4 linked regions of the Homo sapiens genome follow. The protein of the gene in region 4 interacts with the protein of the main gene of each other region in a biochemical or structural test. Each region holds a gene or a part of one and is shown on either strand. Other genes may lie near its edges.

Evidence for each region. Proteins that work in one complex are often made in the same cells at the same time.
Region 1: the proteins of CDC42 (region 4) and CDC42EP3 form a complex in vitro, tested with the Homo sapiens proteins (2 studies listed by BioGRID).
Region 2: the proteins of CDC42 (region 4) and LARS1 form a complex in vitro, tested with the Homo sapiens proteins (one large-scale study listed by BioGRID).
Region 3: the proteins of CDC42 (region 4) and PHAX form a complex in vitro, tested with the Homo sapiens proteins (one large-scale study listed by BioGRID).

Annotation. Positions count from the first base shown.
Region 1 is NC_000002.12:37,665,139-37,668,647, forward strand, and holds part of CDC42EP3 (cdc42 effector protein 3), read right to left. Parts: intron 1-3,509.
Region 2 is NC_000005.10:146,172,647-146,176,155, forward strand, and holds part of LARS1 (leucine--tRNA ligase, cytoplasmic), read right to left. Parts: intron 129-3,509; coding exon 41-128; intron 1-40. UniProt on the Homo sapiens protein: Aminoacyl-tRNA synthetase that catalyzes the specific attachment of leucine to its cognate tRNA (tRNA(Leu)).
Region 3 is NC_000005.10:126,603,942-126,607,450, reverse strand, and holds part of PHAX (phosphorylated adapter RNA export protein), read right to left. Parts: coding exon 3,268-3,509; intron 1-3,267. UniProt on the Homo sapiens protein: A phosphoprotein adapter involved in the XPO1-mediated U snRNA export from the nucleus.
Region 4 is NC_000001.11:22,059,202-22,062,710, forward strand, and holds part of CDC42 (cell division control protein 42 homolog isoform 1 precursor), read left to right. Parts: intron 1-3,509. UniProt on the Homo sapiens protein: Plasma membrane-associated small GTPase which cycles between an active GTP-bound and an inactive GDP-bound state. In active state binds to a variety of effector proteins to regulate cellular responses. Involved in epithelial cell polarization processes.

The DNA of each region.
Region 1 (3,509 bases), on a different chromosome or scaffold from region 4:
AAAGATAACTTAAATGTAGTAAGTGTTACAATAGGAGAAGATACAAGACACTATGGAAATGCCTCTGATACAAGAAAAAAGAGGAACAGAATCACAGTTTAGGGCCAGGAGAGGGCCTGGGGAACATCCACACACTTCTCTGGCCTCCCTTCCCATCCCCACCCTCCCACTCTGCCATTTTTTTTCACAGGTGATGGGATGGAGCCTGCCCAGAGAAGGGGAAGGATTTGTTTTCTGACTAGCTGGTCAGCCAAAGGCTTAGAGCCTCATCTCCCGCTGTGTTAAAATCAATGTTTTAAGTCTGAACTGACCCTTGGCAAAACAAAAGTTTAAAAAATAAATAAAAAGGTTGAGAAATCAAACACATTCTGAATGGCAAAGCCACATTTCACCAAAAATGCCTCTGCTTGTTTTAAAAAATGTATGTAGCCTAAATGATTATGATGTATTTGGACAGAAAAGCTCTTTTTCAACTAAACTCATGACAACGATCTATCATTGGCATGATGTGTCTACAAATAGGACCTTCAGGTTGTCACCAGAACATGACGGATTCCCAAATGTGGAAGCTGTCTAAATAGAGGCCTGACTTGGAAGTTCCCTGCCTTCCACGCTTGCTCAGGCTGCTCTGCCAGAGATCTGCACGGGTCTGTTTTTCAACCCAGAGTCTTACATTATTAGTAGTAAGATAGCTATGCTAATAGGTGCCACTGATCCTGGCTCACTGTTCTGGAGCCAGAGATTATCTGAGATCATCTCTCACCAAATGCTACGTTTTAGGGATGAGAACAAGAAAACCCCAAGAGGTCAAGGTTATACAATTTGGGTCAGAGCTAAGACCAGAATTGGTATTTTTTTAATCTCTATTTCTACACACAGACACCCCTTTTGATTGCCCTCACTTAATTCTCCATTAGTTTTATCAGCGTTTGCCAGGATCTCCTGGTACATCCTCATCGCTCTCTTCCTGTAACGCCTGTGGTTCTCTAACTAAAATGTCCCTGGGTTGCTTCGGCTCTGTAGGACATACTGCGGTTATGTAGCTTCTGTTCTGTGTTTCCCAGAGTGTGTTTCCTGCCAGGCTGGTCCTGCAGCTGCTCAGTGGGCAAAACCATTTGAGAAACTCTGGACACGACCTCCCTGTGGAGATTCACTATATACACTGGCTTTTTAAATGTTCTGAGAAGTCCTGCAGAAAGGGACCTTCATCAAACTGGGGTCCCACAGAATACTTTTATGACATTCATGGCTCGAGGTACACTTTAGGCGGTACCCTGTTACCTAATTGCAGGTGTGTGATCTCTGCAACATGGTTTAACAAAGGGCCAAAGGCTAGAAGGCTAATAATAACTTTATCCAATATGGAAATAAAACCCAATCCACTGAAAATCCTTTTTAAAAAGTTTTAAATTTGGGATTCTAGAATTCTATTAATTCATGACTTAGGCAAGCAGTAAGGACTAAGCAAACACTAGTTTGGAACTCATCAGCTTTCACACAGTTTACTTGGCTATTTAGAAATAGTAATCTTTTAAATCTCAGCATCATGCTTTGTATTATAAAACTGTATGGTTAAAATTTGAAAACTGCTTTTCTACCAGAGGTACTGTCAAATTCAGTCCATCATCATGTGATTCTGATGAAACTTGGCACTGAAGTATATCAAGGAGAAAGCTTTTTTTTTTTTTTAAGGAAAGAAACACACCTGACTATTGCTTTAGAACTACATGGCTACTTATTCTGGTTTGTGGGGTATTGTTTTGTTTTGTAGCCTTTAAGAGGTGGGGACAGGAGAAGATTTCAAATGGAATTGGACAGCTCCAAGACTGTAACCATTGGCTTTGAGGCTACCTGAGTTACTTCGGACTGTCCTTTCCAGAACCCTGTTTCCATCTGAGAAGTCTCTGGAGCTGATCCCCACAGCTAATCACAAACCCAGAGCATCAAAGCAGTGGAGGCCAAGGCAGGCCCTGTGGGTTTTCCGGGGCAAGCAGTAAGGACAAGGTTTCAAAGGTTTCCTTGTTGTGTGTTTCTTATCTAGCAGGGCCCAGGGGATATGCTGAACTGTAACAGGGCTTGACTTCTGCCATGGACACAGCCCAGTGCCTTTCTGTTCACTTTACCTGTAGCTCCTCTTCTGCTGAGTTCTTGCAGCAACATCATCAACAAACATGGACTAAAACGTCCACTGAGTGCCGGGACTGAAGGCCCAGGTAGTGTGGTTCCTGCCTTCAAGGAGGGGATTGTCCACAGGTGGTTACTGGACTCTGCAACCCCGGGCTCCCCAGAATTTTGAAGCGAGCACACAGTCTATGCTAGAGCTTCACTTCATCCCCAGCCACCAGAAGTCCTTGTCCCTGGCTGTGGCTTGGCTTGCTTTCTCACCATATAGTCCCACATTTTCACCTAGTAAATCTCTTCGTTTATGGCATAAATTAAACTGCTTATGTTAACCCTAGCAGTGTTCATGCTAGATCCACTTTCATGCCACATATGTGGGATTGAATCATCTTTAATAATAAAATAATTTACATAGTGTTCCTCAAGGCTGGCAATTACTGTCATCTTCAACTGTGAGATACAGGGTGATATGAAATTATTTCCTTGCCAGAGGCCAAAAGTCATAACAAAAATCAGATTTAACAACTTCTCTGCCCCTCCTCCCCATTGGTGGGGGTGTGGTATTTAGTATAAGGTCAAAAAGACCTGAGTTCAAACCCTGCTTCTGCTATTTAGCTGTGTGACCTTGGCCACGTTACTAAACCTTTCTGAGCCTGTGTTCTCATCTGGAAAAGAAGAGCAATATAATAGTCTGCCTTATCCTCCACGGATATGTTCCAAGACCCCCAGTGGGTGCCTGAACCTTGGACAGTACTGAACCCCATATATACTATGTTGTTTTTTATACATACATACCTGTTATAAAGTTTAATTTGTAAAGTAGGCACAGTAAGAGATTAACAATAGAATAATTATAACAATGTAATAAAAATTACATGAATATGGTCTCTTTCTTTCTTAAAATGCCCCATATTCACCTATTTTCAGACCATGGTTGACTATGGGTAACTGAAACCCTGGAAAAGAAAACCACGGGTAATTGGGGACCACTGTACTATCTCTCTCAAAGAATAGTTATGAATATTACATGACAGAACCAGTATTAAGTACCTAGGAAAAAAACAAAAGCAACATTGAAAACCTCAACCTTTTATTGTGGCTACTCTGGGCCAGGCACTGTTCTGAGTACATAATCTTTTTTAACTCCTTTAATCCTCAGGGAAATAATATTATCTCCATTTTACAAAGGATAAACTGAGGTAAAGGTGAGGTAACTTGCCCAAAGTCACACAGGTGTTAAGTGCCAGAACTAGGACATGTGCCCAGGCAGCCTGACTCGGAGGCTTCAGAAGTTCAGTTTTTTTTCCCATCCCCTTAACCCAAAGAGCTGCTGACTTTCACATAGGATTAGCCACTCATGCCTGCACATATTGTGTTGTTAAACTGCA
Region 2 (3,509 bases), on a different chromosome or scaffold from region 4:
AACCTTCCTCCCCATTATAGCAAACATAGGGAAACATTACCTCACATTTGGATAAAGAAAACGTGTGTCCCAAATGAAGGCGTCCATTCATATATGGATATGGGAAGGTTACAAAATACTTGCCCTTGCTGCAAAACAACAGTATAAAAAAGAAAGTACAGAAGAATAAATGTTAAGTTCCTTTTACAATAAGGAAGTGGGGTGAAGGAAATGCTTGATATAAATAACTTAAGGTTATTTAAAAAATATTTAAAAGTAAATTTATAAATCTACAAATTTAAAACTCTCTAAAATTGAAAATTACTTTAGATTTACAAGAAATAAGACATTGATAGGTTGCTATTAAGAATTAAATAGCCTTGTAACAAATACTAGAGGTTTAATTTGAGCTAAAATACTTGAGTAAAGATAATATACTAGGTCAGGCGTGGTGGCTCACACCTGTAATCCCAACACTTTGGGAGGCCAAGGCTGGTGGACTGCTTGAGGCCAGGAGTTCGAGACCAGCCTGGGCAACATGGTGAAACCCTGTCTCTACTAAAAACTAGCCGGGCGTGATGGCGTGCGCTGATAATCCCAGCTACTCTAGTGGTTAAGCATGAGAATCAAGAATCGCCTGATCATTGAACCTGAGAGGCAGAGGTTGCAATGAGCTGAGATCATGCCACTGCACTCCAGCCTGGGCGAAAATGAGACTCCATCTCAAAAAAAAAAAAATTCTTTAATACCCTTATGAACCTAGGCTAATTTAATATTTTACTGAATAAATGAGATTTGTTTTCACTAGATACTAGATATATATATAAAGCAATTCAAAGTCCCTCAGGTAATATAAAACATCCTCAATATTACTTGATATGTGGTAGATTCACTTTAAACGCATCCTTTAAAGCTTTTTTTTTTTTTTTAATTTTTTAGTTGTTTTTGTAAAGACAGGGTTCTCAATATAAGAACCACCATGAGCATGAGCTCATGAGCCACCATGCTTGGTCTGTATTCTTTTTTCTTATGAAGAATATCTAACATACATACTGTGTTATGAAGCATAATAAAATGAACACTTGTAAACACACCATCTGACTTATGAATCCACTGAAACTACCTGTTTCCTCTCTACTGTCCCACAAGAGATAACCGACATTCTGAAATTTGCTTTTACCGTTCCCTTGTTTTTGAATAGTTTGCACACTTGGCAGCACCCTTAAACTATTTATCATTTAGTTTCGCTCACTTGTGAGTTTCATACAAAAAAAAGGCATACTTCATATAGACTTCTGCAATTTGCCTTCTTCACTTGACATTATATTACTTTCTTCAGTCTTACTGCATACACCTATAGTTAATTCTCTTTCACTAAACAAAGCAGCTTTTTCAGTTCACTTGTAATTATTTTAAATTACCTTAAAGTTAACCAAACCTCTAGAAGAAAATAGAAGCTTCAAATTATAGCTTCAAGTATAACACCAGAGACTATATTACAGCAATTTCTTTTTCTCTTAAAAAAAAAAAAAAAAAAAAAAGGCTGGGGCCTGGTGGCTCACACCTCTAATCCCAGCACTTTGGGAGGCGGAGGCGGGCGGATCACCTGAGGTTGGGATTTCAAGACTAGCCTAACGTGGAGAAAACCCGTCTCTAGTAAAACTACAAAATTAGCTGTGCGTGGTGGCGCATGCCTGTAATCCCAGCTACAGGGGAGGCTGAGGCAGGAGAATCGCTTGAACACGGGAGTCGGAGGTTGCGGTGAGCCGAGATCACACCATTGCACTCCAGCCTGGGCAACAACAGCAAAACTCTGTCTCAAATATATATATATATATCCATATATATATATATATATCCATATATATATATATCCATATATATATATATATATCCATATATATATATATATCCATATATGTATATATCCATATATATATATATCCATATATGTATATATCCATATATATATATATATATATCCATTAGAATATAGCTTAATAAGCAAGGAAAAAAGACTTTTGAATCAGAAAGTCCTAAAAACAAGCCCAGGCCCAGTCAATTCCCAGTGATGTAACCTTGAACTGGTTACTTAGCCTCTCTGTGCCTCAGTTTCCTCAGCTGTAAAAGAGAAATTTTAAAAGCTGTTAACCTTAAAGTATATTGAGAAGATTAAGGCCAGGCATGGTGGCTCAAACCTGTAATCCCAACACTTTGGGAGGCAAAAGTGGGAGGATTACTTGAGCCCAGGAGTTCAAGACTAGCCTGGGCAAGACAGTGAAACTTCATTTCTACAAAAGAAATTTTTTCAATGCTGGGTGCAGTGGCCCATGCCTATAATCCCGGCACTTTGGGAGGCCGGGGTGGGCAGATCACTTGAGCCCAGGAGTTGGGACCAGCCTCAGCAACATAACAAGACCCCATTTCTACTAAAAATAGAAAAATTACCTGGGTGTGGTGGCGTGCGCCTACAGTCCCACCTACTCAGGAGGCTGAGGTGAGAGGATCACCTGAGCCCAGGAGACAGAGGTTGCAGTGAGCTGAGATCACACAACTGCACTCCAGCCTGGGTGACAGAGGCTCGCTCCATCTGACACCACAGACTCTGTCTCCAAATTAAAAAAAAAAAAAAGATAATGGGCGGGCACAGTGGCTCACGCGTGTAATCCCAGCACTTTGGGAGTCGGAGGCAGGCGGATCATTTGAGTTTGAGACCAGACTGGCCAACATGGCAAAACCCCGTCTCTATTAAAAACAAAAATTAAAACTTAGCCAGGCGTGGTGGCATGCACCTGTAATCCCAGCTACTGGGGAGGCTGAGGCAGAAAAATCATTGAACCCGGGAGGCAGAGGTTGCAGTGAGCCGAGATCATGCCACTGCACCCAGCCTAGGCAACAGAGCAAGACTCCACCTCAAAAAAAAAAAAAAAAAGGCCGGGCGCAGTGGCTCACGCCTGTAATCCCAGCACTTTGGAAGGCCGAGGCAGGCAGATCACGAGGTCAGGAGATCGAGACCACAATGCAACCCCATCTCTACTAAAAATACAAAAAAATTAGCCGGGCATGGTGGCAGCCGCCTGTAGTTCCAGCTACTCAGGAGGCTGAAGCAGGAGAATGGCGTGAACCCGGCAGGCGGAGCTTGCAGTGAGCCGAGATTGCGCCACTGCACTCCAGCCTGGGTGACAGAGCAAGACTCCGTCTCAAAAAAAAAAAACAAAAACAAAAAAAATTAAAAGGTAAAATGAGGCCAGGAGTGATGGCTCATGTCTTATAATCTTAAGAGCTTTGAGAGGCCAAGGCAGAAGGATCACTTGAAGCCAGGAGTTTGAGACCAGCCTGGGCAACATAGCAAGACCCTGTCTCTAAGAAAAAACAAATTAGCCAGGCATGGTGGCGCATGCCTGTAGTCCCAGCTACTCAGAAGGCCGAGGAAGAAGGATTGCTTGAGCTCGGGAGTTTGAAGTTACAGTGAGCTATGACTGTGCCACTGCACTCCAGCTTGAATGACACAGCAAGACTTTGTCTAAAAA
Region 3 (3,509 bases), on a different chromosome or scaffold from region 4:
CTCCAGCCTGGGCAACGAGAGTGAAACTCCGTCTCAAAAAAAAAAAAAAAAAAAAAAAAAAAGAATTCAGACCTGGCACCCTTTGTTTCTTCTCAACAGGAGGCAGTGCATTTTTGTGGAAAGAGAAATAGACTAGGAACACAAGGATCAGGGTTTAACTCCAGGTCTAATATTAATCTGTGAAATGAAGGTTTTGGTTTACAACATCTCTAAGTTTCTTTCCAGCACTCAAATTCCAAACTTCCCCAGTATTTTAAAAATCAAGTACTGGTGTTCAGATAGGCTTGCCTGGAAAGTAAATACTTGTTTTCCTACCACCTGCATTACTCTTGAACCGTATCTGTTTTCAAATTTATGACACTGTTCATTAGTAATTTAGAGCTAATGAAAATGTTAATTCAAAATCTGAACTTGGTAAAAATACATGAATTGTAAATTTACCATACACCAAGCAATTCTACTTCTGGGTATTTACCTGAAAGAAATGAAAATATGGCCAGGTGAGGTGGCTCATGCCTGTAATCCCAACACTTTGGGAGGTCGAAGGGGGTGGATCATCTGAGGTTAGAAGTTTGAGACCAGCCTGGTCAACAAGGTGAAACCCTGTCTCTACTAAAAATACAAAAAAAAAATTATCTGGGCGTGGTGGCGCACGCCTCTAATCCCGGCTACTAGGGAGGCTGAGGCAGGAGATTTGATTGAACCCAGGAGGCGGAGGTTGCAGTGAGCTGAGATCATGCCACTGCACTCCATCCTGGGCAACAGAGTGAGACTCTGTCTAAAACAAAACAAAAGAAAACAAAGATATGAAAATATGTGTTTAAAGATCTGGATGTGAAGGTTCATAACAGCATTATTCATGATAGCCAAAAAGTAGAATATTCAATATGAATATATGCATATATACACACACTATAAAAATGTATTGATTCCTGCTACACCATGGATCAATCTCAAAAACACAACATTGGCTGGGCACAGTGGCTTACGCCTCTAATCCCACCACTTTGGGAGGCTGAGGTGGTCTGGAGTTCGAGACCAGCCTGGCCAACATGGCGAAACCCTGTCTCTACTAAAAAATATAAAAATTAGCTGGGCGTTGTAGCACATGGCTGTAATTCCAGCTACTCACGAGGCTGAGGCATGAGAATTGCTTGAACCCAGGAGGCGGAGGTTGCAGTGAGCTGAGATCGTGACACTGCACTCCAGCCTGGGCAACAGAGTGACACTCTGTCTCAAACAAACAAACAAACAATCAAAAAAACAAACCACACACACAAAAAAACAAAAACAAAAACAAACAAAAACATAACATTAGCTGACAGAAGCAAGGCACGAGATTACATACTACATGACACCATTTATATGAAATATCCAAAAAAGGCAAATTTATAGACAGAAAGTAGATTAGCAGTTATCTGGGAATGAGAACAGGGATTAACTATAAACTGGCATGTGGACATAAGGGATCTTACTGGGTGACAGAAATGTTTCAGAGGTGATGGTTATACAACTTGATATGTTTCCTAAAAAAATTAACACTAGAAATGGGTGAATATTATCTGTAAAATATACCTCAAAGTTAAGAAAAAAGTCACAAATTCTTGAAAACACTAAACAAACAAAAACAACCCATGATTTAAAAATATATGCTTTATTTAAAAAGCTCTATGGCACTAAATGCAACAAGTTGTTTAACAGTTCATAAAAGTCTACAAAATTATTCTATCAGGCTTGTCCAAATTTAAGAAAACACAGTGGGTGCGCAGCTCACGCCTATAATCCCAGCATTTGGGAGGCCAAGGCAGGCAAATCACTTGAGGCCAGGAGATCGAGATCAGTCCGGCCAACATAATGAAACCCTATCTCTACTAAAAATACAAAAAAAAAAAAATTATTTGGGTGTGGTGGCGAATGCCTATAGTCCCAGCTACTCAGGTGGCTCTCTCACGTTCAAGCAATTCTCATGAGGGGACGTTGCAGTGAGCCAGGATACCACCACTGCACTCCAGCCTGGGTGACAGAGCAAGACTGTCTCATAAACAAAAAACCAACAGAAAAATACATTACGAATGTATTCATATAACCAAATTATCCCAGTTCCTTAAAGAAAAATTTTCAAAGACTCAGGTACAGTGGCTCACACCTATAATCCCAGCAATCTGGGAAGTTGAGGCAGGAGGATTGCTTAAGCCCAGGAGTTCAGCTTCAATGAGCTCTGATTGTGCTACTGCACTCCAGCTGAGTGACCAGAGCAAGACCATCTCTTAAAAAAAAAAAAAAATCTGTGGACAGCGCAGTGGTTGATGCATATAATCCCAGCACTTTGGGAGGCCAATGTGGGAGGACTGCTTGTTCCCAGGAGTTTGACACCAGCCTGGGCAACACAGTGAAACTCCTAATTTTTTTTTTTTTCTGAGATGGAGTCTAGTTCTGTCACCCAGGCTGGAGTGCAGTGGCACAATCTCGGCTCACTGCAACCTCCGCCTCCCGGGTTCAAGTGATTCTCCTGCCTCAGCCTCCCGAGTAGCTGGGATTACAGGCGCCCACTACCACGCCCAGCTAATTTTTGTATTTTTAGTAGAGATGGGGTTTCACTGTGTCGGCCAGGCTGGTCTTGAACTCCTGACCTCATGATCCACTCACCTCAGCCTCCCAAAGTGCTGGGATTACAAGCATGAGCCACTCTGTCTGGCCATAATTTTTTTTTTTTAATTGGCCAGGCATAATGGCCTGAGCCTGTAGTCCCAGTTACTCAGGAAGCTGAGGTGGAAGGATCCTTTCAGCCCAAGAGTTCTAGGTTCCAGTGAGGTGTGATTGCAGCACTGCACTCCAGCCTGGGCAAGAGTGAGATCCTTTCTCAAATAAATAAATAAATAAATAGATTAGGCCAGCCCATGGCTCACGCCTGTAATCTCAGCACTTTGAGAGGCAAAGGCGGGTGGATCCCTTGAGCTCTGGAGTTCGAGAGTAGCTTGGACAACATGGCAAGACCCTGTCTCTATTAAAAATACAAAGAATAGCTGGGCGTGGGGGTGCATACCTGTGGTCCCAGCTATTCAGGAGGCTGAGGTAAGAGAATCCCTTGAGCGAGGAGGCGGAGGTTGCAGTGAGTAACTGCACTCCAGCCTGGGTGACAGAGCAAGACCCTGTCTCCAAAAAAAAAAAAAAAAAAAGGAACATATCATTAAAGTATTTGGCATTCATTTTATTTCCTGTAAATAGAAGCCATCTGGTCAAGTACTTATTTGTAATTCAAATGCTCACCTGAATGAAATTTCATCAGCCACTTTCTCTTGAGAATCTTCCGCTGTGATCTCGTATCGACCTTTATAGTTCATTTCTGGTCTGTTCCCTAGCCTGTCTTTGACAGGTCGTTTCCTTTTGAGATGACCTTGCCCATTTTCCTCTTCCTTTGATCCCATTTTTTTGCCACCATGCATATATTCATCTAGTTCCTTGTCTAGATCTTTTGTATGCTCTTGAGATTCCTTCCTAAGTTTCTTGGC
Region 4 (3,509 bases):
CGCAACCTCCGCCTCCCAGGTTCAAGTGATTCTCCTGCCTCCACCTCCCTAGTAGCTGGGATTACAGGCATGTGCCACCACAGCACGGGGCCTTAATTATACATTTGAACTTAAGTGACATTTTATTGAAAACTAATTGTGGTGACGAGGAATGGTCTAAGCATATGATTAGGATAATTCATATTCATTATGAAAACTTAGGTGAAATACAGACTTGGCATTTAGCTTGTCAAATGTAAACATGTTTTCTGCTTTCTTTGCTAAAATCATATTTCCAATTTCAAGGGAAAATGTTAAGAACCAAAATCATCTTTTTCAGCTACCCGCCTGAAAAAATTATTGCTATTTTTCTTTTCTTTTTTTTGAGAATTCTCGCTCTGTTGCCCAGGCTGGAGTGCAGTGGTACGATCTTGGCTCACTGCAACCTTGCCTCCCAGGTTCAAGCGATTCTCTTGCCTCAGCCTCCCAAGTAGCTGGGATTACAGGCGCACACCACCATGCCTGGCTAATTTTTGTATTTTTAGTAGAGACGGGGTTTCACTATGTTGGACAGGATGGTCTTGAACTTCTGACCTCAGGTGATCCGCCTGCCTTGGCCTCCCAAAGTGCTGGGATTACAGGCGTGAGCCACGGCTCCCAGCCTGTTATTTTTCAAGGGCCAGATTGAATTTATTTCTCTGATATTTCCTTTTTCCTTCTTTAACTATATGGTGTAGGAGAAATTCTCCAGGACTATCCCTGAGAGCTGGGGGATCAGTGTCTCAGGAACACCTGTGTTTATTACCTGTGTCCATTCTCTGTGTCTTAAGTGGCCATTTGAAGCCATCTACGTCCTTTTCAATTGAAAGATTATCAGTAGGCTGGGTGCGGTGGCTCATGCTTGTAATCCCAGCACTTTGGGAGGCTGAGGCAGGCAGATCACCTGAGGGCTGGAGTTCAAGACCAACCTGGCCAACATGGTGAAACCCCGTCTTTACTAAAAATACAAAAATTAGCCATGGTGGCATGCACCTGTAATCCCAGCTACTTGAGAGGCTGAGGCACGAGAATCGCTTGAACCTGGGATGCAGAGGCTGCAGTGAGCGGGGATGCACCACTGTTCTCCAGCCTGGGTGACAGCTGAGACTCCGTCTCAAAAAATTAAAAAAAAAAAAGATTATTGCAATTCATTACTCCATGTGGAAGGAGGAGAGGTGTCTGAGAACAGATCAAATGAGGAACAGATGATTAAACCAGAGGGAGATGGAGGTGGAATAAAAGAATATTATGTTAATTAGTGTTAAGGGGTATGAGAAAAGAGGATAAATTTAGTAGAAGAAAGCATAAACAAGATTTCAGCTATGGTTCATTTGCTTTGCTGGAAGACAGTTTAGGAGTATTTGTAATATTTTTAGTTTGTTTTTAATCTATATAAAAGCAGATGAAGAGGAGTGGGAAGTGAAAGAATAATGTTACTTGAATAACACTTATCTCTGGTTTCAGGGATTTTCATTACAACTTTACTAGTATTTGTTTCATTAGCTGAATACTATTGGAGAAGAACTCAGTTTTAGATAAATTCTGAAATGGAATTAATACATTCATATCACTTGCTTGCCTAAAAAACATTTTTATTATAGGGTTTAAGATTAACAAGATTTTAAAATAAGTGATTAGATTTTAGAATGTGTAAAGTTTGGTTTATAACTTGAAAGGATAGTTCTATGGATATCAGTGTTTTTTTATTTTGCTATTTTATTCGTGCTGTTTATTTGCTCTGTTCATCATAGGGGCAAAGGAAATGTTAGATCATCCTAATAGTTGATAAGCTAGTAAAGATGAGGGTAGGGGATAATTTTAGAGTAAGGCCTGTGTGGCTTAGTGTGTTTCAGAATATCTGAAAGACATTTCCATGGGCTTGGGTGTCAGATAAATTAGAAACCCAGCCGGGCAGAGTGGCTCACGCCTGTAATCCCAGCACTTTGGGAGGCCATGGCGGGCGGATCACCTGAGGTCAGGAGTTCGAGACCAGCCTGGCCAACATGGTGAAACCCCGTCTCTACTAAAAATACAAAAAATTAGCCAGGTGTGGTGGCATGTGCCTGTAATCCCAGCTACTCAGGAGGCTGAGGCAGGAGAATCGCTTGAACCCGGGAGGTGGAGGTTTCAGTGAGCCGAGATTGCACCACTGCACTTCAGTCTGAGTAACAAGAGCAAAACTCTGTCTCAGGAAAAAAAAAAAAAAAGAAACCCTTTATTATATCTTCATCCTGGAAATCATAATGTATATAAGTTTATTTTAAAGGGTTAGGGAAGTTAGACGGTCAATCAGTTTAACTTCATGTTTCTTTCTTTTTTTTTTTTTTTTTTTTTTTTTTTTTGAGATGGAGTCTTGCTCTATCAGCCAGGCTGTAGTGCAGTGGCATGATCTTGGCTCACTGCCACCTCTGCCTCCCGGGTTCAAGCAATTCTCCTGCCTCACCCTCCTGAGTAGCTGGGATTACAGGTGCCCGCCACCATGCCCGGCTAATTTTTGTATTTTTAGTGGAGATGTTGGCCATCTCCACTTTAGTGGAGACCGTGTTGGCCAGGCTGGTCTCGAACTCCTGACCTCAAGTGATCCGCCCCCTTCAGCCTCCCAAAGTGCTGGGATTACAGGCGTGAGCCACTGCGCCCGGCCTAACTTGATGTTTCTTAAACTTGTTTGATGACGTTTCATCCTCCCCATCACCCCTATGGAACACCCTTTTTTATTTTATTTATTTCTTTTTTTTGGAGAACGGATTCTTACTCTGTCACCCAGGCTGGAGTGCAGTGGCGTGATCTTGGCTCACTGCAACCTCTGCCTCCTGGGTTCAAGCAATTCTGCCTCAGCCTCCCGAGTAGCTGGGACTACAGGCATGTGCCACCATACCCAGCTAATTTTTGTATTTTTAGTAGACACGGGGTTTCACCACGTTGGCCAGGCTGGTCTCAAACTCCTGGCCTTAAATGATGTGCCTGCCTTGGCCTCCCAAAGTGTTGGGATTACAGGCGTGAGCCTCCATGCCTGGCTGTTTGACCCATTTAAAAAATGGCTTGTGGTTTATAAGACAAATTGTTTGAGAATCTGAATGTAGGTACTTCTACCTCATCAGCTAGAACAAAGAAAGTCTAAATAATCATAGTTTGTTTTGTAGTTGGCATCTCACCTCATAACTTTTAAAAGAAAGGTTCTGAATTTGTCACGTTTGCTGCCTAGGTAATGTAGTGACTTATTTTATGCTGCAAATGTCTGCTTGTTTAGGATTTCTGATATAGGCTGGCATGATTTCATTCTTGTAGACTTACGACCAAATTACTCTGTGCTGATTCTGAAAAGATTTGTCTTTTTGGTGCATGTATAAGAACATAAGTTGCCTGATCTTAAGAGTTTTTTTCTGATTGGGTATGGTGGCTCATGCCTGTAATCCCAGCAGTTTGGGAGACCTAGGTGGGAGGATTGCTTGAGGCCAGCAGTTTGAGACGAGCCTGGTAGCCTGGTCAACATA